Linked DNA regions of Homo sapiens. The protein of the gene in region 2 purifies or fractionates together with the protein of the main gene of each other region. This does not show direct contact. Each region holds a gene or a part of one and is shown on either strand. Other genes may lie near its edges.

Region 1 (5,754 bases), on a different chromosome or scaffold from region 2:
AACATGGTGAAACCCCGTCGTTACTAAAAATACAAAAATTAGCTGGGTGTGGTGAAGCATGCTACTCAGGGGCTGAGGCAGGAGAATTACTTGGACCCGGGAGGCGGAGGTTGCAGTGAGCCGAGAGCCAGAGTGAAACTCTGTCACACACACACACACGCACAAAAAAAAAGACAGCAAACTTAGTAAATGTGTATTCTGACTGCTCCACTGACCTGCTGTTCCCGTCTCTTCCTCTTGTTGGACCTCCCTATTCCCTGAGACACAATATATTGAAATTAGGCCAATAACCCTACAATGGCCTCTAAGTGTTTAAGTGAAAGGAAGAGCCCCATGTCTCTTACTTTAAATCAAAAGCTAGAAATAATTAAGCTTAGTGTGTCAAAAGCCAAAAGCTACACCTCTTTAGTCAAACAGCCAGGCTGTGAATGCAAAGGAAAAGTTCATGAAGGACATTAAAAATGTGACTCCAGGGAACACACAAATGATGAGAAAATAAAACAGCCTTATTACTGATACAGAGAAGTTTGAGTGATCTGGATAGATCAAACCAGACACAAAATAAAATTCCCTTAAGCCAAAGCCTAATCCAGAGCAAGGCTTTTTCATGAAGTTTAAGGAAAGAAGCCGTTTCCGTGACCTAAGAGTGCAAGGTGAAGCAGTAAGTGCTCATGTAGAAGCTGCAATAAGTTACTCCGAAGATCTAACTAAGATAATTGATAAAAGTTCAAACAATATCAAACAACAGGCCGGGCGCAGTAGTTCACACCTGTAATCCCAGCACTTTGGGAGGCTGAGGCAGTTAGATCATTTGAGGTCAGGAGTTCGTGACCAGCCCGACCAACATGGTGAAACCTCATCTCTACTAAAAATACTAAATTAGCCAGGCGTGGTGGTGTACGCCTGTAATCCCAGCTACTCGGGAAGCTGAGGCAGGAGAATCGCTTGAACCCAGGAGGTGAAGATTGCACTAAGCCGAGATCGTGCCATTGCACTCCAGCCTGGGCGACAGAGCAAGACTCCATCTCAAAAAAATATATTTATCAAACAACAGTCTTTCGACAGCTCTGATGGAGATACACAAGGAGATTAGTGATGTTTTCATGCCCGCTAATACAACATCCATTCTGCAGCCCATTGAACAAGGAGTAATTTCAACTTCCAAGTCTTATTATTAAGAGTAATAACAATAAGGTGATCCTCCCACCTCACCCTCCCAAACTGTCAAGAATACAGGCTGAGGCGGGAGGATTACTTGAGCCAATGAATTTGATACCAGCCTGGACAACAAGACAAGACCCTGTCTCTACTAAAAATTTCTAAAAATTAGCTGGGTGCTTGGGCACAGTGGCTCATACCTCTAATCCTAGCACTTCGGGAGGCCAAGATGGGTTGACTGCTTGAGCCCAGGAGTTCATGACCAGCCTGGGCAACATGGCAAAACTCCGTCTCCACAAAAAATACAAAAATTAGTCAGGTGTGGTGGCACGTACCTGTGGTCCCAGCTTCCAAGCTACTCAGGAGGCTGAGGTGGGAGGATCACCTGAGCCCAGGTGGTAGAGGCTGCAGTGAGCAGTGATCGCACCACTGCACTGCAGGTCTGGGTGAGAGAGGGAGATCCTGTCACTGTACTCCAGCCTGGACAGCAGACAGAGACCCCGCCTCTAAAATAAAATAAAAAGAAATACATTTGGCTGGGCGTGGTGGCTCACACCTATAATCCCAGCACTTTGGGAGGCTGAAGCACGCAGATCACCTGAGGTCAGGAGTTTGAGATCAGCCTGGCCAACATGGTGAAACCCTGTCTCTATTAAAAATACAAAAATTAGCTGGGCGTGGTGGTGCACACCTGCAATCCCAGAAACTCGAGAGAATGAGGCACGAGAATCACCTGAACCTGGAAAGCAGAGGTTGCACTGAGCCGAGATTGCGCCACTGCACTCCAGCCTGGGTGACAGAGCAAGACTCTGTATCAAAAAAAAAAAAGAAATACATTTTATAAGACTATAGATGCCATAGATAGTGATTCCTCTGAAGGACCCAAAGTAAACTGAAAATCTCTGGAAAGGATGCACCATTCTAGATGCCATGAAGAACACGCGTGATTCATGGGAGGAGGCCAAAATATCAACATTAACAGGAGTTTGGAAGAAGTTGATTCTAACCCTCATGGATGACTCTGAGGAGTTCAGGGCCTCCATGGTAGAAGTAACTGCAGATGTGGTGGAAAGAGCAAAAGAACTAGAATTAGAACTGGAACCTGAAGCTGTGACTGGGCTGCTTCAATCTTATGATAAAACTGTAATGGATAAGGAGTTGCTTTGATAGATAAGCAAAGAAGGTTTTTTGTTTTTTTTTTTGAGATGAATCTACTGCTGAAGATGCTGTGAACTCTGCTGAAATGAAAACAAGGATTTAGAAGTATTACAAAAATTATTTGATAACACAGTGGCAGGGTTTGAGAACAGTGACTACAATTTTGAAAGTAGTTCTTTCGGCTGGGCGCAGTGGCTCACGCCTGTAATCCCAGCACTTTTGGAGGCCGAGGCGGGCAGATCACCTGAGGTCAGGAGTTCGAGACCAGCGTGGCTGACATGGTAAAACCCTGTCTCTACTAATAATACAAAAATTAGGCGGGTGTGGTGGCACACATCTGTAATCCCAGCTACTCGGGAAGCTGAGGCAGAATTGCTTGGACCCAGGAGGCAGAAGTTGCAGGGAGCCGAGATGGTGCCACTGCACTCCAGCCTGGGCAACAGAGTGAGACTGTCTCAAAAAAAAAAAAAAAGAAAGTAGTTCTTTCTTCTAGGTAAAATGCTATCAAACAGATCATTTTGTAGTTCATAAGTGTGATCATTGGGTGTTCACGCTTACATGTGAGATGTGCCATCCTTGAACCTTGTTAGAACATCAGTACATCACCTGGCTGACATTTTAAAAAATGCTGTCAGCCGGGCGCAGTGGCTCACGCCTGTAATCCCAGCACTTTGGGAGGCTAAGGCGGGTGGATCATCTGAGGTCAGGAGTTCCAGACCAGCCTGACCAACATGGTGAAACCCTGTCTCTACTAAATACAAAAAAAATTAGCCAGGTGTGGTGATGCATACCTATAATCCCAGCTACTTAGGGAGGCCGAGGCAGGAGAATCACTTAAATCCAGGAGGTGGAAGTTGCAGTGAGCCAAGACTGCACCACTGCACTCCAGCCTGGGCAACAAGAGCGAAAACTCCATCTCAAAAAAAAAAAAGCTATAAAACAGCATTACATGCTACAGAAAGATCTTTTGTGAAAGGAAGAGTCAATCAACGAGGCAAACTTCGTTGTTTTAAGAAATTGCCACAGCTGAGCACAATCACTCTTGCCTGTAATCCCAGCTACTCAGGAGGCTGAGGTATAAAAATTGCCTGAGGCTGGCAGGGTGCAGTGGCTCACTCCTGTAATCCCAGCACTTTGGGAGGCCAAGGCGGGCGGATCATGAGGTCAGGAGATCGAGACCATCCTGGCTAACATGGTGAAACCCCATCTCTACTAAAAATACAAAAAAAAAAAAATTAGCCAGGTGTGGTGGCAGGCACCTGTAGTCCCAGCTACTTGGGAGGCTGCGGCAGGAGAATGGTGTGAACCTGGGGGGTGGAGCTTGCAGTGAACTGGGTGAACCACTGCACTCCAGCCTGGACGACAGAGAGAGACTCGTCTCAAAACAAAAAAAAAAAAAAGAAAAGAAAAATTGCCTGAGGCCAGGAATTCAAGACCAACCTGGGTCCGGGCACAGTGGTTTACGCCTGTAATCCCAGCACTTTGGGAAGCCGAGGCGGGCGGATCATGAGGTCAGGAGATGGAGACCATCCTGGCTAACTCGGTGAAATGCCGTCTCTACTAAAAATACAAAAAATTACCCGGGCGTGGTAGCGGGTGCCTGTAGTCCCAGCTATTCGGGAGGCTGAGGCAGGAGAATGGCGTGAACCCGGGAGGCGGAGCTTGCAGTGAGCTGAGATCGCGCCACTGCACTCCAGCCTGGGCGACAGAGCGAGGAGACTCAGTCTCAAAAAAAAAAAAAAAAAAAAAAAAAAGACCAACCTGGGAAACAGACCCCATCTCTTAAAAAAAAGAAAGAAAAGAAATTTCCACAGCCCATCCCAACTTTCAACAACCACCACCCTGATCAGTCAGCAGCCATCAACATCGAGGCAAGACCCTCCACCAACAAGATGGAGGCTCAGATGACTGCTAATTTTTTTTTTTTTTTTTTGAGACAGAGTCTCGCTCTGTCACCCAGGCTGGAGTGCAGTGGCGCGATTTCAGCTCACTGTAAGCTCCACCTCCATTCTCCTGCCTCCATGCCATTCTCCTGCCTCAGCCACCCGGTAGCTGGGACTACAGGCGCCCGCCACTACGCCCGGCTAATTTTTTGCATTTTTTTAGTAGAGACGCGATTTCACAGTGTTAGTCAGGACGGTCTCGATCTCCTGACCTCGTGATCTGCCCGCCTCAGCCTCCCAAAGTGCTGGGATTACAGGCCTGAGCCATTGCGCCTGGCCAACTGCTAGTATTTTTTAGCAGTAAAGTATTTTTAAATTAAGGTACGTACATTGGTTTTTAGACACAATGATATTGAGCATTTAACAGACTACAGTATAAACATAACTTTTACATGTGCTGGGACATCAAAAAATTCATGAGACTCACTTTATTATAATATTCACCTACTGCAATGGTGCAGAACTGAACCTGCAATATTTAAGGTATTCCTGTGACGACAATGAATTATAACCCACTGAATGAAATAGGCCTATGAATCCATACTGATATAAATGAAGAAATGAATAGGGAAGAAGAGAAAGCTTTCTTGCATTAGAAGGTCAACTAATAAATGTAGAAGGAATGATAGAGTTAGAAAAATGAACACTGACAACAATCACAGTCAATAATTGATTCAGGCAAGAATCATCAGTAGATGTTCATTTTGATGAGAAGCAGAATATTTACAGTTAAAACATAGTCTTAACATGAGGTAGTATTAATTACAAAGAGGAAAAAAAAAAGAGTAACTTTACAGTGGAGAAACCTGCCAGAGAAACCTTAACCAACTTATCAGAATGCACATCACCAGTAATGGGACACATCATGTGTTTCCTGTGATTTTCTGCCAAAAATGCATAACCTGAATCTAATCCTGAGGACACAAACAAGCCCCAATTAAGGGAGAGTCTACAAAATCACTTGATCGCACTGTTCAAAAGTATCAAGGTCATAAGAAACAAAGAATAAAGCAGCCACTCCAGATTAAATGAGACTAAAAAGAAATGACAACTAAATGCAATGTGTGACCCTGGGTTAGGTCTTGAACAAGAAAACAAGTTTATTCTTTTGCTCTAAAGGACACTGCTGGGACCACTGGTGAAACCTGAGTAAGGTCTGTAGATTACAGTGTTACAGCAATGTTAGCTTCCTGAGTCTGATAATGATACTCTGGTTATATAAGAGTCTTTTGTCTTTACAAATATACACGAAGGTATTTAGGAATGAAGGGACATTACGTCTGCAACTCACCCTCAAATGGTGGAAAAAAAAAAACCCCATGTATATAAATGTTAAATTTGGGGACTCCGAGTGAAGAGCATATGCTGGAAATCTGTACTATTCTTTCAACTTTAAGTCTAAAGTCAGTTGAAAATAAAAAGCTAAAAATGCAGATTACGGCTTGGCACGGTGGCTCACACCTGTAATCCCAGCACACTGGGAGGTCGAGGCAGG
Region 2 (5,754 bases):
ATTCCAGGTAAGGAGAGGCTGAAGGAGAGAGACCCCTGAGCACAGCCTTTTATCCAGACCAAGCATCCAGCCCAAAAAGTCACCTGTGGCAGATGCCAAACAAGTTCAGGTCCACGTCTGTGTGTGCTTCTCTGCCTTCCTACCTGCTGTCCAACAGGCCCAGCCCCAGCCTGCCCTGACATCTTCCAGAATCCAAACCTGCCAGAATCCACAGCCTGCCCCCTATGCCTGCCCTCGGTGCCCTGTCCCTGCCCCCAGTGTTAACTAGCGGTCAGCCAGGCAGAAAGGCCTGGCACTGTCAACACGTGGGCTTCCGAAGCCGTGACACTACTTTGATTCTCACTGCAGAGCACTGCGCCGGCTCGGAAGGATGCCCTGTGTCCGCCTGCCGCGACGATGGTGCCTTTGTCTGGGCATGGGGAGCTGTGATTTATGTCATAAGCTCGCTGTGAAACCTTTTGCCTCGGTAATTCTGCGCTCCATGGGTGTCTCTTTACATCTATTCACAGTACGGCTGCTGCCCACGGACGGCTTGCCCTGTGACAGTGCTGGTGACTCTACGCTCGGCTCGCCATGGCGCCCGTGTGGTGCCTGCCCAGCATCTTTGTGGCTGGCTGCAGCGTCTGTTGCTTTGATGTCGCACATGATTAGATGCCGTCCCTGGAGGAGCGATTGCAGGGAGACTGGGTGGAGGAAGAGGCTGCCTCTAGCTTTCCACAGAGTTTTGCTTCGGTTGTGGGGACCAAGCTAGAACATTACAGGCACTGCTGCCTTTGCTTGTGGGATTCTCAGCATGGTGAATGCATCCTCATCCACCATCCTCTCCTGGCCAGGTGTAGGGGTACCCACTGGAGGTGTGGGGGAATCCCAGTGCAAAAAGGTGGAATCCTTATTTCCAAAGATTTAATGCAGGCCATGAGCCTGCAGTGGCTGGAATCCCTTTCATTCATTCAACAAACACTGATGGAAGGTCTGTGCTTGCAGGCGCCATGTTCAGGGAGGCAGCGGTGGGCAACGCTTTTTGCAAAAGCCTCAAGGTATTAAGATTTCTCAAGAAAACTCCAATTCCTTCCAGGATGGGTGGGAACTGACAAGATTCCTTGTCAAGCACTTCCCATGGCTTTTTGGCCCCCAGGTACAACAAATCTAAACCTACCCCCAACCTGAATGGAGGATGAGTTGCACCACTGACTGACCCCATTTCTGTGTGGCTGACATAGTACTGGGGATCCCATCCCAGAACAGGGCCCCTGAGCACCTAGAGAGGAGGTGCTGTGCTTTGTCCTGCATCTCTAGTCAAGGCAGTGTAATTTCTACAGCCTTGGAAACAGAGTCCAGGGGTCAGAGGTCCTGTTCCTAGAAATGATGCCTGTGGGGCTGCCCCTAGGATTTGAAAGCCTGGTCAGAGATCACTCAAATTGAAACAATTTCAAGGCTAACAAAGGATTATTTCTAGTCGCTACTGAAATATATTGACTCCTTTTTTTTTCTTTAAAATAAATTGCCCCATTCTTCCCTGAATAAGTAAGTCAGAAAAAAATAATTGGCCCAGATATTTTCCCCTTTTGGCCCATCCTGTAACTTTGTTTTCTCTTTTCATTCCTTTTTTTGGAGACAGGGTCTTGCTCTATCACCCAGGCTGGAGTGTAGTGTTGCTATCACAGCTCACTGCAGCCTCCACATCCTGGGTTTAGGTAATCCTCCTGCCTCAGCCTCCTGAGTAGCTGGGACTACAGGTGCATGCCACCAGGCCCTGCTAATTTTTTTAAAAAAATTTTTGTAGAGATAGGATCTTGCTATGTTGCCCAGGCTGGTCTTAAACTCCTGGACTCAAGTGATCCTCCTGCCTCAGCCTCCCAAAGTGCTGGGATTACAGGTGTGAGTCACCATGCCTGGCCTCTTTTCATTCTTTATGCAGTTGCATATGACAAGGGCTGAAGTGTGTGTTGGTTTAATGCAGACACAGTGTGCATGGGAAGGGCAGTGAGTCTTGTTTCCATGTTATAAGTTGATGAACTAAGCCTGCTAATGATGGGAAACATTAAAATGTAAATTATAAATATAAAAGGTAGCTGTCACAGAACATAAAAATGCTAGCATTTCTTCCCTTTCAGGAGTCCACTATATTGAAATCATTGCCTTAGTGGAGCACCACAAGACAATTACCCAAAGAGGGGGTGAGACAGCATCGGGAAAGTGCCATCCTGTTTGTCAAGTGAGCAAACACTAGGGGAGTTGTCTCGGGGGATTTTCTAACCTTTCAGAGGCACAGTCTACTCTGAACGCATCTATAATGGAAAGTTAGCATTTGAGAGAAATGAGTGAATCTCACTTCTCGATGGTTCAGACCACTGAGAACACTGTACTTTTGAATATTAGCTTTTCAGCTATTTGTTCAAAACTAATCAGGCCAAAATATGTCTTATGTCTATGAGTGATGAGTCTTGGTTGATGGAGATAATTTTTAAATTAAACACACCCGGATTTTACATCTAATGGAATGACTTCCCTTCAATGAAGTCTTTTCGGGAGGACAACCTGTTACTCCAGCCAATATTTTGGAAACATTTTCAGTCTTTTGGGTTATTTTCTGAGGTGAGAAATCTTTATTCTTTATCATTATTATTTCAGGGTAGATCTGACGGGTGGAACAAGGATGAGTTGTTCAGAGTCAAGTCTGCAAGGGTGAGCCAGCAGAATGGGGGTGAGGTCCCAACACTGCAATGACCTGGGCAGGGCACTTCACCTGACCGAACCCCAGGTAGAGGGAGAATATCACCTGCCTCTCGTGTTTCACTGCAATGTGGTGAGGACCGAATGAGAGAAGTCTGCAAATGTACGAAGCACTCTCATTAACAAGGTGGATGATCAGATTGGGTAATTTTGTTTCAGATCAAATGCCAGATGTGGCAAAAGACTGATTTTCATCGTTCTGAAAATGACACTGATGATGAGCTGCCAAAATATTTTGAGCTCTGACTGCATCATCGAAATAAGTGCCTGGCGTCCGTCCCCAGGTGACTACTTTGAAAGGATGCATTCTTCACATGCAACCCCTTAATTGTCTCGTGGCTCTAACCAGAAGGCTTCTAGGCCCCTGTTCCTCAAAATGGGGTCCCAGGAACAGCAGTCTAGGCCACACCCGGGAGCTTGTTGGCAATGCAGGCTCTCCCACCCCAGACCGGCAGAGCAGATTCTGCATTTTCACAAGTCCCCAGGGGTGCCTGGGCCATTACACTTTGAGAGCGCCGCATGCAACCCAGCTCCCAGGCCGGTCACTAAGTGGCAAAACTCCAGGGCACGTGCCAGCCGGGCTGGATCCTGCCTTACCTTGGGGAAGGCGTCGGGCCACACGGTGGGAGAGCCGTGGTTGAGCAGCGCCTGCACCGTGCGCTGCGGTGAGGCCTGGAGAGCGCAGGATGCGGTCTGGAGCACGCGGCCCAGCGGCGAGGCCCCGCCATAGTCGAGCGCGCCCGCGTCGGCGCCGTGCCGCAGTAGGAGGCGCGCCAGGCTGTGGCTCGCGTGGCCGCAGGCTTTGTGCAGCGGGCTGCGCTCGTCCTCGTCGCGCGCGTCCGCCTCCGCCCCGCGCCGCAGCAGCAGCGCGCACAGGCGCAGGCAGCGCCCGTGCTCGTCGGGCCTCCGCGCCGCACCGCAGGCCGCGCTCAGAGCCGTCTCTCCGCGGCCGTTCCTCGCGTCCACGTGCGCCCCGCGGCCCAGGTACAGGCGCGCGTGCTCGTCCAGGCCGCGCTGCGCCGCCACGTGCAGCGGCGTGTCCCGGCCCGTGCCGCCCACGCGCTGCACCGAGGCCCCGTGCTCCAGCAGCGCCTGCGCGCACCTGTGGGAAGCCAGGGCCTGTCACTCGGGCGCCACGCAGGACGCCCGCACCCTTCCACCCCCGGCCTGCTGCTGCAAAATATCAAGTGACCTCTGAATGAAAAGACATGCTCCGCTCTCCCATACCAAGGCGTCAGGAGTTCAAACTAAACTGGAAAAAAAAAAAAAAAAAAAGAGATTATGGCAAAACCAGCTCCTGAGTGGTGTAAATAGCAAAGGATATGCCATAAGAATCCACGTGCAGAGTTACAATTTATAAGGAAATTTTAACTGCTTGGAGCTTCCTGGGAAGGTGATGTGGTTCAAATGACGGTGCTCCATGCACTGGTTACCTGAGCTCTTTGTCACACCTGGAGGTTAAGGGTTTGGCAGTCACAGTTCTAAGGAGAGGCCCTTGGGGGTCAGACTCTTTCCCGGCCCCCATCTAGCCCTTCTGGAAACCGCTCAGCTTTGTGAGGGTGTGAGGCAAGCCTTGCCTTGCACCACGAAGGGACTTTCCCCATCCCTCAGGACACTGACTCAGGCTGGCACCACCCTGTCCTCTGACAGTCCGGGGAGCATTAGGTGGGAAGCACAACCAGGCCCTGTTGTGAGCCTACCTGTGCTGCTTGAACAGACTGGATATTGGCTGCACCTGAATTCCCCAGTGGTCTCCAGGAGCTTCTAGACCCCCATGGGAGCCTGCGGTCTTCCCCAGAGACGAGTGTCTTCCTTCTGCTGCCTCCAGGAGCATGACTGTCCTCTACCCCAGGCACCAGGCTTCCTCAGAGCCTCTCCCATCCCCTGGGGGCACTCTAAACAGCTCAGCCTAGGCTCAGATGCCTGGTGAGAAGTGTGCCCCAGCCTGGAAGCCGGAAGACAGTCATACAGACCCTCTGCCCTCCGCTGGTCCTTGTCCTTCATGGACACGGAAAAACACAAGCCCACCCCCAACTTCAGCCACCTGCTCCCATAGTCACCTGCCATCGATAAGGCCGCTCCAGCCTTGGAAGTCTGCAAACATGCCGACTTCAGACTACAGCCCTAGTCCTCTAGCTCCCCAATGCCTGTTGGTCCTACTTGCCATCTTTGCTCTATGGAGACCTGAGCCCTGGACCTCTCGTTTCTCTCTACCCTTCCTGGCTTCAGTTCCTTTCCTGGGCAGCACTGTGGTCACCTCGTCATCTGCATCCTCAGTTCCCTTGAATGGAGGGGACCATGGCCATCCCCTACTCAAATGGCCGAATCTTCAAGCCGGAGTCCATTCTTCACCCCCCTCCTTTTCTCTGCGGGTCTGCCGAGCCCTGTTGGAGGACGCAGCCTTCATGGAGCTGGCCTTGGTCTCAGCTGGGCCTCAGTTAACTGATATCTTTCAGTGTTAAGGCCACCTCCTCATGCCTTGCTCTCCACTAACCACTCCTAATGTTGACCTTGGTCCTCAAGCTTCCGCCCTCTTCCTTTTCAGCTGTCTACATCAGCTTCATTCAGGGTGCAGCTCCCAGGAACTCCCTCACCTGCCTGCCTTCTGCAAACACATCTGTTTCAACACTGATTAGAATCTGTTTTGACAACAGCTGTTGCCTCCCTCTTCCCCAGGCCTAAGGAAGGCACTCCCTCTTGATCATCTTGGCCCAGAGTTAGTCGTCTTTGGCTTATTTGGGGTCTTGCTCTAGATGACTTGCTTCTTGCCATTTTCCTGTCTTTCTATTTCCCTGCCCCATTTCAACTGGTCACTGAGCCATCTCATCACCTGAACTGCTTCCTCCCTCCACTCCCAGTGTCACTGTCCTTTGTTGAGGCCACATCGTTTCTCGGAATGCTTATAAGTCTCTTCATTTGCCCCTTGCTGCAATCTAGCAAACTGCATACTATCTGGAAAGAGCCTTTCCAGTGCCAATCAAATGTGCCTGCCAACAACCCCACCACTCCCCCTGCCTGCTG
Region 3 (5,754 bases), on a different chromosome or scaffold from region 2:
GTAACAAAACTAAAATCTACTCTTAATCATCAGAGGGCAACATAAGGTCTGCAGTTTAACAGGTGTGACCTGCCTACTCTGGCAGGGGAAACTGGACCACTGTGATCAGCAGATGCCATGAGGGACCCAGGCCCAAGGCTGCCAGGTAGTAAGGGCAGCCTGTGCAGTGGGGCTCTGGGTTCTCCACCGGGCTCAACCCCAGCCGCAGAGGGGCTAGGTGTGCCCCTCCAGCGCTGGGTGAGGGCCAGGAACCACCACTGCCCAATTAACTATACCTTTAGAGGTGCATCTTAAACACAGATCACCTGCAAAGCAGTTAATGTGACTTGATCATGGGGGTCCTAATTATCCAATAAACAAGGGCAGCCACAAAACAACCTAACTTGATGAACTTTCAAGTCGGCACTTGTCTATTCCATTCCTTTCTTGGCCTTTGTTAACTTAACTCTGGATAAAGAAACGGTAACAAAAAGAAGCAACAGCATTCCGCCTCAAAATCTTTATTTTGTAGCCCTATTTCATCTTCATCCAATTGGAAGCCATTTATTTATGCTTTTCTTTCCTCTTGTCTAGACAACAGGCTTCAGAAAAGCAATTTCTCTCAGGTTGTGCTGCTTAGTAAACACCGACCTCGGCCTTCATACGTAGAAGGAGCAACCAAGGAATCTGTGGAATCGAACATGGGTTTACCCTAAAGCTGTGGCTCAGCCTTGGCTGCACCCTGGAATCACCTGGAGAGCCTGTACACTCCTGCTGTCCTGATCACAGCCCAATCAGATCAGCCTCCAGGGCGAGGTCCAGACATCACCAGCCTTAAAGCCCCCAAAGGTGACCTGGTGTGCAGCCAGGATGAGACCCACAACCCTAAAGCTAAATGGGTAAAGTACTGGGGTGAGGGGCCCCCAACTTGCAGTTGAGGACTTGTAGAAAAGTCAAGTCCTCACTCCTTTTGCATCACTGACTGGCCTGCCTTATGGGTATGTGGAGAGTGATGGTTGAAGTGAGATAGAAGGTTGCTATTGTTTTAAAAAACCAAAGCTCACAAAACCAAGCTCACAAAAGCACTTTTTATTTGAGGCAAAGAGAAGTCTTGCTGAAAGGATTCCAGTTCCAAGCAGTCAAAACTCAACCGTTAGTGGCACTATTTTGACCTGGTAGATTTTGCTTCTCTTTGGTCAGAAAAGGGTATTCAGGTTGTACTTTCCCCAGCAGGGTAGAAAGAAGGGCAAAGCAAACTGGAAGAGACTTCTACTCTACTGACAGGGCTCTTGAGATCCAACATCAAGCTAGACACGCCCTCGCTGGCCACTCTACAGGTTGCTGTCCCACTGCTGAGTGACACAGGCCATACTACATTTGCAAGGAAAAAAATGAGGCAAGAAACACAGGTATAGGTCACTTGGGGACGAGCAGGCAACCACAGCTTCAAAACTCTTCATGGAAGGGGTAATCCTTGTGGGAGGTACAGCTGTCAGGAGAAAGGAGAAAACAGTTGCTTTTTGAAGAGGTGATTTTGACTATACCCAACTCCCAACAGAGAAATGATGTGTCTCACTGAAGAAATAAAATAGAACCTCAGAGGCAACAAGCTAGTTCTGAGTGTGCAGATGATGGTTCTGCAGCTGGGGGAAGCAACTCACCCTCCAGACCCCTCTACCACTACTGTCATCAAGCAGCACATGTGTGAGGGACACCACCCTCCCCATGTGCCCAGCACTGTGCCTGGGCCGTGCAGGACGGCAACACGATTTCTGCCTTCCAGTAACTCAGTCTAGCTGGCAGGACCAGACAGTATTTTGTGGTCTTAAACATCTTGTGTAATAATATGAGAAGGCAGGCCAGACACAGTGGCTCACGCCTGTAATCCCAGGCTGAAGCGAGAGGATCACTTGAGGCTAGGGGTTTGCGACTAGCCTGGGCAACATAGCAAGATTTCCATCTTAATAAAAAAACTTTTTAAATTAACCAGGCATGGTGGTGCATGCCCATGGCCCCAGCTACTTGGGAGGCTGAGGTGGGAGGATCATTTGAGCCCAGGAGGTCAAGGCTGCAGTGAGCTGTGATCATGCCATTACATTCCAGCCTGGGTGACAGAGTAGGAGCCCATTTCAAAAAAAAAAAGGGATGTTAAAAGTCTGTATGTGACTGAATCTCAAAGGATAAGAGAAGCAACGGCAAGTGCTCTGAGGACAGAGGGAGCCTCCTTGTATCAGTGGGGGCTGAAGTGAGCCCAATCAACGGTCGGCGATTTTATATTGGAAACAGGGCAGGGAGCACAGGGCAGGGAGCACATGGCAGGGAGCACAGGTGCAGACGTGTTTGTCAAGGCTCACTCACTGTCCATCTAGTAGGGCCAATGGCTGTGCTAGGAACATAAAGGCAGGAACACTGGACAGATAGCTGGGCAGCTCACGCAAGGCCAGAGTTATGTAATCTGAGCTGGGTGCTTACAGTCTGTAACTCTTATTCAAAAGTTCTCCATGGTCTGCCTTTTTTGTATACCCACAGTGACACTGACATCAGCAGGTCAGGCTCAGTAAAGCATTATCTGCCAGAGGGGTGGTGTGTGTGTAGTTAGCGAAAACTCCCTAGGAGACCTGAGCATGTCAGGGCTAGCCTCTTCCTCCCACTCACCGCCACGCAACAGGATAATCGAACAGAAGTTTCTAGCACAATACTGGAGGGCAGAGGAGCCTAACTGTAAAGGGAGCAATGAGAAAACCACTGTGTTTCCTCAGCCCTGAAAGCTTCAATCCACTCTGTCTCAAGTGGGAGGGGAAAAGGAAGACGGATGAATGGGAGAGATTCTGAAAGGAGAACGAATGTAGCTTGGTGACTGATTCACTCCTCTCCTCCTTGTCCACTAGATCCAAAAATGATTTTAATGTCTAGGGCTAAGTAGCATTAACAGAGATGTCTGAAAGGGCACTGGCCTGGGGCTGCCTGTGACATGCTCTGTTTGCGGCCTATTTTGAGTGTGAGGCCACAGTGTGGCAGCAGCAGGCTTGCCAGGCACGCATATGCCTGAAGCAGGGCCAGAGTTATTGTCCAGGACGCAGACTGGGCAAACATCTGCCTGGGGCGGTGGCTGAAGCCACCAGCAGTGCAAACTCCGGGGAGGGAGATGGGACAGACGCTGGAAAGGGAAAGCTGGTAGCCCACCCCATCTTAGGGAATGTTCACATTTTGCTTAGAAGAGGAAGTACTAAAGGAGAGAGTGTGGAAACACAGAGCTCAGACAAGAATAAGGGTAGTGAGAGAGAAACAGAGTCTCAGTCTCCACTGCAAAATGAGAAGTTCCTTCTTGAAAGCAGAAAGTGAGTTACATGCGTCACCTAGTTATTGTAATGGTAGGAAAAGAGAAAACCCCACAGAAAACCTTCCTAGGCAGCTCCTTCCAAACTACCATGCAGAGGAAACAGAACCAGAGGATGTGTGGCTGGAGGAACTGAGGTGCCTGCTGCTCAGAGGGAGGGCCTGTTTTGGAGCCATGTGGCTTACCAGGTCAGAGCCGGGACTGTCTCAAACCTCAGCCCCAGGGGCTCCCGACCAAACCCCTTTCATTAGGGTCATTAAGACAAAAAGTCACAGGCAAATTCTTCCAGAGTTTGATCCAGGGTCACCTGGGATCACCTAGTTTCAGATGAACTGCTAGGATTTAAAAATTGAATGGAAAGCCAAAATATGTAGTTACTTCAGGCCAGGCCAACAATGCCCCAGGGCTGGAAGAAGATATCAAGAGCGGATCTCTTGGCATCTTGGCTCCATGCAGTTCAGCTGATGCAAGTCACGTGGCTGAGAAAGCAAGGTAATGTGCAAAGCAAGAACAGCTGTGACGAGAGCACATTGGCGCTGAGGCCTGCAGGGATCACTCTCTTGCTGTGCAGCATCTGAATATCTCCTGGGAACTGCTCCTCACACTGGGGCTCACTCACCTCAACAAGGCACAGACCCTCCAGTTCCTGTTGTAGCTGAGTAAGGTGGTCATATCCTGGCTGCTCAGTTCAAAGTCAAAGACCTAAAAAACAAACAAAAAAATCCAGTAAGCTCTGCAAATAAAAATAAAAGACAAAATACTGTGCAGGACCCAGATGTCTTCCATGGCTTTGAGCAGAGAGGAGCGATAAGATAAACTGAACTTAGGAAAAGCTGATATATTAGTATTCAGGAAATGTGCATGTTGGGCTAGATAATATATGGAACGATGGAAACAGTCCTTCCTTTCCAGAACCTCCCAGGGAAATGATACATTTTATTTCATTTCAAAAAACACTACTGAGCACTTCTATTGTGATAAGTTGCAGTGAGGAATATAATTATGGGTAAGATGTGTCTTTGCCTCTATTTTATGAAGCAAACAAAGGGCAGAGGTATTTCTACAACTGTAATACAAATAACTAATCACACACTGTATAAGACACTCAACAGCACAGGAAGGGCAGAGGTATTCCAAAGGGATTCCAGCCGGGAAACTGAACAACCACAGCCGAAGAGGAGATGGTATTTGACATGGCCTAAGAAGTATAAGATTTTGACAGAGAGGGCAAGAAAGGTATACTGGGAGAAGAGAACCACCTGCATGAAGGCAGCAGACGGTACAGAACTCAGCTGGCATGGAGGCTGGGAGGGAGGGAGGCAGGCAGGCACCACTGGGTGAGACCCACAAGAGGCTGACACACACTCCCAGAGCCGAAGGGCTCTTAGCTTCAGATGATCACAGAATGTGCAGAAAGAGAGTCTGCTACAGGCTCTGTGGTTATGATCACAGAAAAATGTGCAAAAGCTATACAGTAAGATGCAAAAATAAAATAATTAGGTTAGCATTTTGAGATTAGTCATTTATTTTTTCTTTCCTAATTCCTTAAAAAATGAAATACGAAACAAACGATGCATCTCTGGTGGGATATGCCTTTCCCTCAGTGGCCACTGTTTTGCCATTTTATCTTGTGTACTTAGAACATCTACCTGCACGTAAGAAGAAAAACGTCTCCTCTCCTAAACAATGAGCTCCACTTCCCTCTTCAGGGATCACTCTCATCCCTGTCTCATATGTGACAGGTGGCAGGCACTATGGCCACAGTCTTTGGGCAGTGGAATTGGGCAAAATCAGCTGCTCACCTAAGCTGGGGCCTGCCCAAGAGCCCCAGGCCCATGGCTGTGCTGCGCTCGGCACAGATCTTGGATAAAGACAGAGCATCCCTGGCAGAGCCACTTTGCTCAGTGAGAACAGAGGCTCTTGGGCCATCAGGACTCCCCTGAGCTGCTCTCCTTTGGGCGTGCCCCCCCCCTCCCCCACACCCCCGCCACCAATGCTGCAAGGGCAGGCAGGGAGGGAGGTGGCGCCAAGTAGCCTGAGCTGCTCCAGCTGCCACACTGAGCGCTTCGCCAGAGTCCTGACACAGGTCTAGGCTCTGCCCATCATCACACGAACTCCTTGCAGAGCTGGTGAATGGACTAAATGGCCCAGAGGGTCCTTTGCAGTCCCTGGACTTATCAGCACAGCAACATTTCTCGATCACTTACTAAGGTATTAAGCACCATGTGAAGTGCTCTGATGCATCACTTAATCTTCGTAACAACCCTCAAAATGGATATTATTTTATAGATAGGGAAGCTGAGGCATCGAGCAGTTAAGCGACTTGCCCAGGGTTATGCAGCTGGTAGCTGACAGAGCTCCAGTGCAGGGCAGGTCCAGGCAGTGAAGCTCAAGAGCGAGATTCTCCCCGGGTAACCTCTCGGTGTGGCTGAAGGGCC
Region 4 (5,754 bases), on a different chromosome or scaffold from region 2:
AATCTTTATCCAGGGCAAAGGCATTTGGGCTGCACCAAAGTCCCAGATGCCTTGTTATAAGGTAGCTCTCAAACAGTAGCTCATCAGATCCCATCTGCCAGCTCTAATCAGTGGGGAATATCAGATTCTTTTTTTAAGCTTTGAGGGGATCTGGGATATGGCTTGTTTCTTTCATTTTTGGGGGGTTTCACTTTGTTAGATATACATAAGATTTTTAAAAATGTTTTCAGTCAAATTGATTTCCTTCTTCCTTACAGTGTAAGGCAAACATTGGTGGGCACCGATCTTCCTGTTCATTCTGCAAGAACCCAAGAGAAGGTGAGTGGCGAAAGTGGTAGCAGTTTTTATCTCGTGCATTGAGCAAAACAAATTTCATGTTTTCCTTGGCTTTGAAGAATTATCATCCCTAAATCCAAGTTGATCTACAAACCTTTTTTTTTTTTTTTGAGATGGAGTCTCGCTGTGTTGCCCAGGCTGGAGTGCAGTGGCACCATCTTGGCTCACTGCAACCTCCAGCTCCCAGGTTCAAGCGATTCCCCTGCCCTAGCCTCCTGATTAGCTGGGATTCCAGGCATGTGCCACCACGCCCTGTAGCCCGGCTAATTTTTTTGTATTTTTAGTAGAGACGGGGTTTCACCATGTTGGTCAGGCTGGCCTTGAACTCCTGACCTTGTGACCCGACCCACCTTGGCCTCCCATAGTGCTGGGATTACAGGTGTGAATCACTGCACAAGGCCTGCAAACCTTTATTTATTTATTTATTTTTGAGACAGAGTCTCGTACTCACCCAGGCTGGAGTGCAGTGGCGCAATCTCGGATCACTGCAAGCTCCGCCTCCCAGGTTCACGCTGTTCTCCTGCCTCAGCCTCTCTAGTAGCTGGGACTATAGGCGCCCACCACCATGCCCAGCTAATTATTTGTATTTTAGTAGAGACGGAGTTTCACCGTGTTAGCCAGGATGGTCTCGATCTCCTGACCTCGTGATCTGTCTGCCTCAGCCTCCCAAAGTGCTGCGATTACAGGCGTGAACCACCACGACCGGCCCAAACCTTTCAAAAGTGCAATTTGAGCTAGGCATGGTGGCTAACGCTTGTAATCCCAGCACTTTGGGAGGCCAAGGCAGGTGGATCACCTGTGGTCAGGAGTTCAAGACCAGCCTGACCAACATGCCGAAACCCTGTCTCTACTAAAATTACAAAAATTAGCCACAGGTGTGGTGGCACATGCTTGGAATCCCAGCTCCTTGGGAGGCTGAGACACTAGAATCGCTTGAACCCAGGAGTCAGAGGTTGCAGTGAGCTGAGATCTCGCCACTGCACTCCAGCCTAGGCAACAGAGTGAGAAAAAAAAAATTGCAGTTTGGTGCCCAACTTAACGTAACCTGTTAGTAAATGATTTCAGATCTTATTTTCACCAGAGGAAAGAGATAGGGTTGTGGGCTCCTAGGCTAAAGTGGCTAAGTGGGCAGCTGAGCAGAGGTCAGTATATTGTTATTTGGAATACATTTAAGGATTAAGGATGTTAGGTTGAAAAAGAGTCTTTATGACATCAGTCTGTGTGGCAAACCTTTCTCCCACTCCTACTTCTTTGAAGTTATTGGGAATCATTTGCTCTATTGTTTTCTCTTTTACATTCTGTAAGCATTTCAGGATTTTCAAGAGAAAAACATTTGTTAAAATAACAGTAAAAACATAAATAGGAGAAAATAATCAGGATGTGGGGAACATTTTATTATTTTAGAGGAATAAAACTACCAGCTTCTCAAGCACTTATCTTTAATGTAAATTTCTTTAGAGAAATTTCAGGTAGGCAACTTCGAAGAGTCAGACACATGCATCCATAACAACAGTCCTGTAGTCATCCCTTAAGGAAAGCCACAGCATGACCATAAAATATAGTTCAGTGCAGGGATTCAGGTAGCCTTCTGTTTGTTGCAAGGTTAGAGTTTAATGTGCCTACAAGGAGTTTCTTAGGTGGGCTTTTGTCCTCTTGTGGAGATTTTACTCTGGTGAAGACTGAAAGGCAGGTGTTCTGAAAATCTTTAGGGGAAGGCTGTGTATGTTCTAGAAACCAAACCAAAATGTGGGAAGGAGGATGAACAACTGAGATTTTTGCTTGTTAGGTCACTTCAGGTTAGGCAAAGTTGTGTTTTTTTCCCCCCACAAGAAACACTTTTTTTCAAAGCTATTCCAGCAAATGAATAGATAGTTTTTTGTTTTTTTTCTTTTTTTTTTTGAGACGGAGTCTTGCTCTGTCACCCAGGCTGAAGTGCAGTGGCGCAATCTCGGCTCACTGCAAGCTCTGCCTCCCAGGTTCACGCCATTCTCCTGCCTCAGCCTCCCAAGTAGCTGGGATTACAGGCACCCGCCACCGTGCCCAGCTAATTTTTTGTATTTTCAGTAGAGACAGGGTTTCACTGTGTTAGCCAGGATGGTCTCGATCTCCTGACCTCGTGATCTGCCCGCCTCAGTCTCCCAATGTGCTGGGATTACAGGCGTGAGCCACCGCTCCCGGCCATGAATAGATAGTGTATGAAAACCACTGGGCACCATACCACTAAGATGAGACAGCTTTAATCTGGAAACCTGTCACTGCTATTATGTAATCTCTATATTGCTCTCATATAATACCTCTTTTTGAGCCACATGGATTCCAGTGAACCCTCCAAGAATGAATTAGTTACAAGAATGTGCCCCTAATTATAAAACAAACTATAAAGACAAATTATCCTGCTGTAGTAGGACATTTGAAATAAATCATTTATATTTTGAAGGACGTCTGCCCATTATGTTTATTTGCATATAAAGGAGCTACGTGCAGATAGGGTCTGTTCCTAGCTTCACTGGAGGAGGGCCTGTGGTCTTACAGGATATGAGTAGCTGTTTGAGCACTGTAACACTGGAAGAAGCAAGGCTTCTAGATGTGTGTTTGGGATATGTGTTTCTACTAAACCTTAAGTAAGGGCCATATCTTCGGTAATTTTGTCCCCAGATGTGTTGTTATCATTGATTATGATAGTCAGGTTCAAGGTGTCATGAAGGATTTGTTATATTTAAATGTTTAGTAGGTGATATAGAGATTTCATAAGATTACATTTTTTAAATGCTTGGATAGTTTCTTCTGTGAACTATTTCATGTCCTGTCTCAGCTTCACTTAAAATATTTTGTCAGGAACTGTCAGAGGACTTTTTATTAGATATTTCTGAGATAATATTAAAAGCATTCCAGGCCGGGCGTGTTTGCTCACACCTGTAATCCCAGCACTCTGGGAGGCCGAGGCAAGTGGATCACCTGAGGTCAGGAGTTCGAGACCAGCCTGGCCAACATGGTGAAACCTCGTTTCTACTAAAAATACAAAAAATTACCTGGGCGTGGTGGTGGGCACCTGTGATCCCAGCTACTCTGAAGGCTGAGGCAGGAGAATCGCTTGAACCCGGGAGGCAGAGGTTGCAGTGAGCCAAGATCATGCCATTGCACTTCAGCTGGGCAACAAGAGCAAAACTCCGTCTCAAAAAAAAAAAAAAAAAAAAAAGGCATTCCAGTATGAGTATTTGCTGGCAGGTAAGGAGAAATTACAGTAGCAGTGTTTTTTCTTTTTTTTTTTTTTTGATAAAGCTTTCTAGAGATTCTCTTTGTTTCTGTTCCACTAGTGACAGAGGCCAAGCAAGAATTAATAACCTACCCTCAGCCTCAGAAAACATCCATACCAGCACCATTGGAAAAACAGCCCAACCAGCCCCTAAGACCAGCTGATAAGGAACCTGAACCCAGGAAGAGGGAAGAAGGCCAAGAGTCACGCTTAGGACATCAAAAGAGAGAAGCAGAAAGGTATCTGCCTCCTTCTCGAAGGGAAGGGCCAACTTTCCGAAGAGACCGAGAGAGGGAGTCATGGTCTGGAGAGACACGCCAGGATGGAGAGAGCAAAAGTAAGTAGTTTGTCAGGGCACATACCAGACTGTGATCATCACAATGGAGCATAGATGGCCAATGTTATGTCCGGGAGCTATCTGCTTTCCAGTACCCTGAGAGATCTGTGCATGACCTGATGACAGAGGCCATTGCTGTCTGTGGACCTTCCTGTACTGCTTAAAGGAATCTATGCCCTTCAAATAGTAAATTGCTATATGAATGCAGTAAGGCATGATTTTAGATTTCTAAGTATTGGTGAAGAAAAGTATGCAGTATTTATTTGTTTAGCATTTTTTTACAGAACCAGCCTTGCTAGTAGCATCTATAGTAAAAAATGACAGTCAGATTCTTGGGACTTCAAAAATTTATCTTTCTCTCCCTTGTGTTGCCCTTCTCCCATTTATGGTTGATTCAGCTATCATGCTAAAGCGTATCTATCGTTCCACACCACCTGAGGTGATAGTGGAAGTGCTGGAGCCCTATGTCCGCCTTACTACTGCCAACGTCCGTATCATCAAGAACAGAACAGGCCCTATGGGGCATACCTATGGCTTTATTGACCTCGACTCCCATGCGGTGAGTTTCCTCCACCTTGGATTGGCCTAGAGACAGATGGCTAAAGAACCTTCAAGAAGGTTTGACTGGGGGCCGGGCCTGGTGGCTTACGCCTGTAATCCCAGCACTTTGGGAGGCCGAGGTGGGTGGATCACGAGGTCAGGAAATCAAGACCATCCTGGCTAACACGGTGAAACCCTGTCTCTACTAAAAAATACAGAAAAATTAGCTGGGCGTGGTGGCAGGCGCCTGTAGTCGCAGCTACTCGGGAGGCTGAGGCAGGAGAATGGCGTGAACTCCGGAGGCGGAGCTTGCAGTGAGCCGAGATCGCGCCACTGCACTTCAGCCTGGGTGACAGAGCGAGACTCTGTCTCAAAAAAAAAAAAAAAAAATTTGAGGGACTTCTTGATCATTTGAATTCTTGTGTGCTACCTGATATCATAATCCCTCTTGCTCTCTCCTTTGGGTTTATTGTTCATTCAGGTCAGGTGACAGCCCTCAAAAGTTAGGATCCCGTCTGGTTTTCTAGGTTCATTTTTTTCTTGTGTCATTTACTGTTTCCAACTTACTCGCTTGTGAAGAATCTGAGTACTGAATCCTTCATGATTTTAGTGAACTTTCTGATTTATTTTGTCCAGCCACAGATGGTTTTATATTTGATGATAAAACATTTCCTCTTTTTCCTCAAAGTATTTATAGATTCCTGTGGCTTAAATTTTTAGTTGCGGGGCCTTTTTCTATGGAAGTAAGGTGAAGATAATGAAAGTCATTGGTATTTCTTAGATTTTTCATGCTCAAAAGTCACAAGGGACTTTGTAAACTGAATCTGATTGATGATAATTGCAACCTAAAAGAAGAGGATTTGAATTTCTGAAGTTTATGCCAGAACTGACATCTATTCTGATTCCTGTTCCAATCAGTCCTTCATTAAAAGTTGCCTGTTTCTGCCAGTATGCTCTTACTGTTAAAATTTTGACAGAATATAATGTAGTAAATTTATCCTCTGAGAAGGAAAATCCACGTTCACTTCTCTTTCAAAGGAGAATTTTTCTGTCTTTGGGTTCTGGCATTTTCTGTCTCTGGGTTCAAGTGTGTCTGGTTCTATAGGAAGCTCTTCGTGTGGTGAAGATCTTACAGAACCTTGATCCGCCATTTAGCATTGATGGGAAGATGGTAGCTGTAAACCTGGCCACTGGAAAACGAAGGTAAGGCAGAAGGGTGAGGATCTCTTGTGCTGCCCCCACTTGTGTTTTTGAGAGGAAACTCCTTTTCCTGGCTGGAAAAACAGTA

What was found.
Region 1: the proteins of ASB18 (region 2) and PRPSAP1 purify together in Homo sapiens (affinity purification with mass spectrometry, with the first as the bait; one large-scale study listed by BioGRID). This does not show direct contact.
Region 3: the proteins of ASB18 (region 2) and AKR1B1 purify together in Homo sapiens (affinity purification with mass spectrometry, with the first as the bait; one large-scale study listed by BioGRID). This does not show direct contact.
Region 4: the proteins of ASB18 (region 2) and RBM6 purify together in Homo sapiens (affinity purification with mass spectrometry, with the first as the bait; one large-scale study listed by BioGRID). This does not show direct contact.

Annotation. Positions count from the first base shown.
Region 1 is NC_000017.11:76,321,368-76,327,121, forward strand, and holds part of PRPSAP1 (phosphoribosyl pyrophosphate synthase-associated protein 1), read right to left. Parts: intron 2,933-5,754; exon of another isoform or gene 2,829-2,932; intron 1-2,828. UniProt on the Homo sapiens protein: Seems to play a negative regulatory role in 5-phosphoribose 1-diphosphate synthesis.
Region 2 is NC_000002.12:236,211,032-236,216,785, forward strand, and holds part of ASB18 (ankyrin repeat and SOCS box protein 18), read right to left. Parts: exon of another isoform or gene 5,607-5,754; intron 3,836-5,606; coding exon 3,331-3,835; intron 3,195-3,330; exon of another isoform or gene 2,632-3,194; intron 1-2,631. UniProt on the Homo sapiens protein: May be a substrate-recognition component of a SCF-like ECS (Elongin-Cullin-SOCS-box protein) E3 ubiquitin-protein ligase complex which mediates the ubiquitination and subsequent proteasomal degradation of target proteins.
Region 3 is NC_000007.14:134,441,303-134,447,056, forward strand, and holds the end of AKR1B1 (aldo-keto reductase family 1 member B1), read right to left. Parts: intron 4,019-5,754; coding exon 3,936-4,018; intron 1,469-3,935; coding exon 1,426-1,468; 3' UTR 1,054-1,425; downstream 1-1,053. UniProt on the Homo sapiens protein: Catalyzes the NADPH-dependent reduction of a wide variety of carbonyl-containing compounds to their corresponding alcohols.
Region 4 is NC_000003.12:50,054,078-50,059,831, forward strand, and holds part of RBM6 (RNA-binding protein 6), read left to right. Parts: intron 1-257; coding exon 258-318; exon of another isoform or gene 319-324; intron 325-3,650; coding exon 3,651-3,926; intron 3,927-4,324; coding exon 4,325-4,485; intron 4,486-5,571; coding exon 5,572-5,669; intron 5,670-5,754. UniProt on the Homo sapiens protein: Specifically binds poly(G) RNA homopolymers in vitro.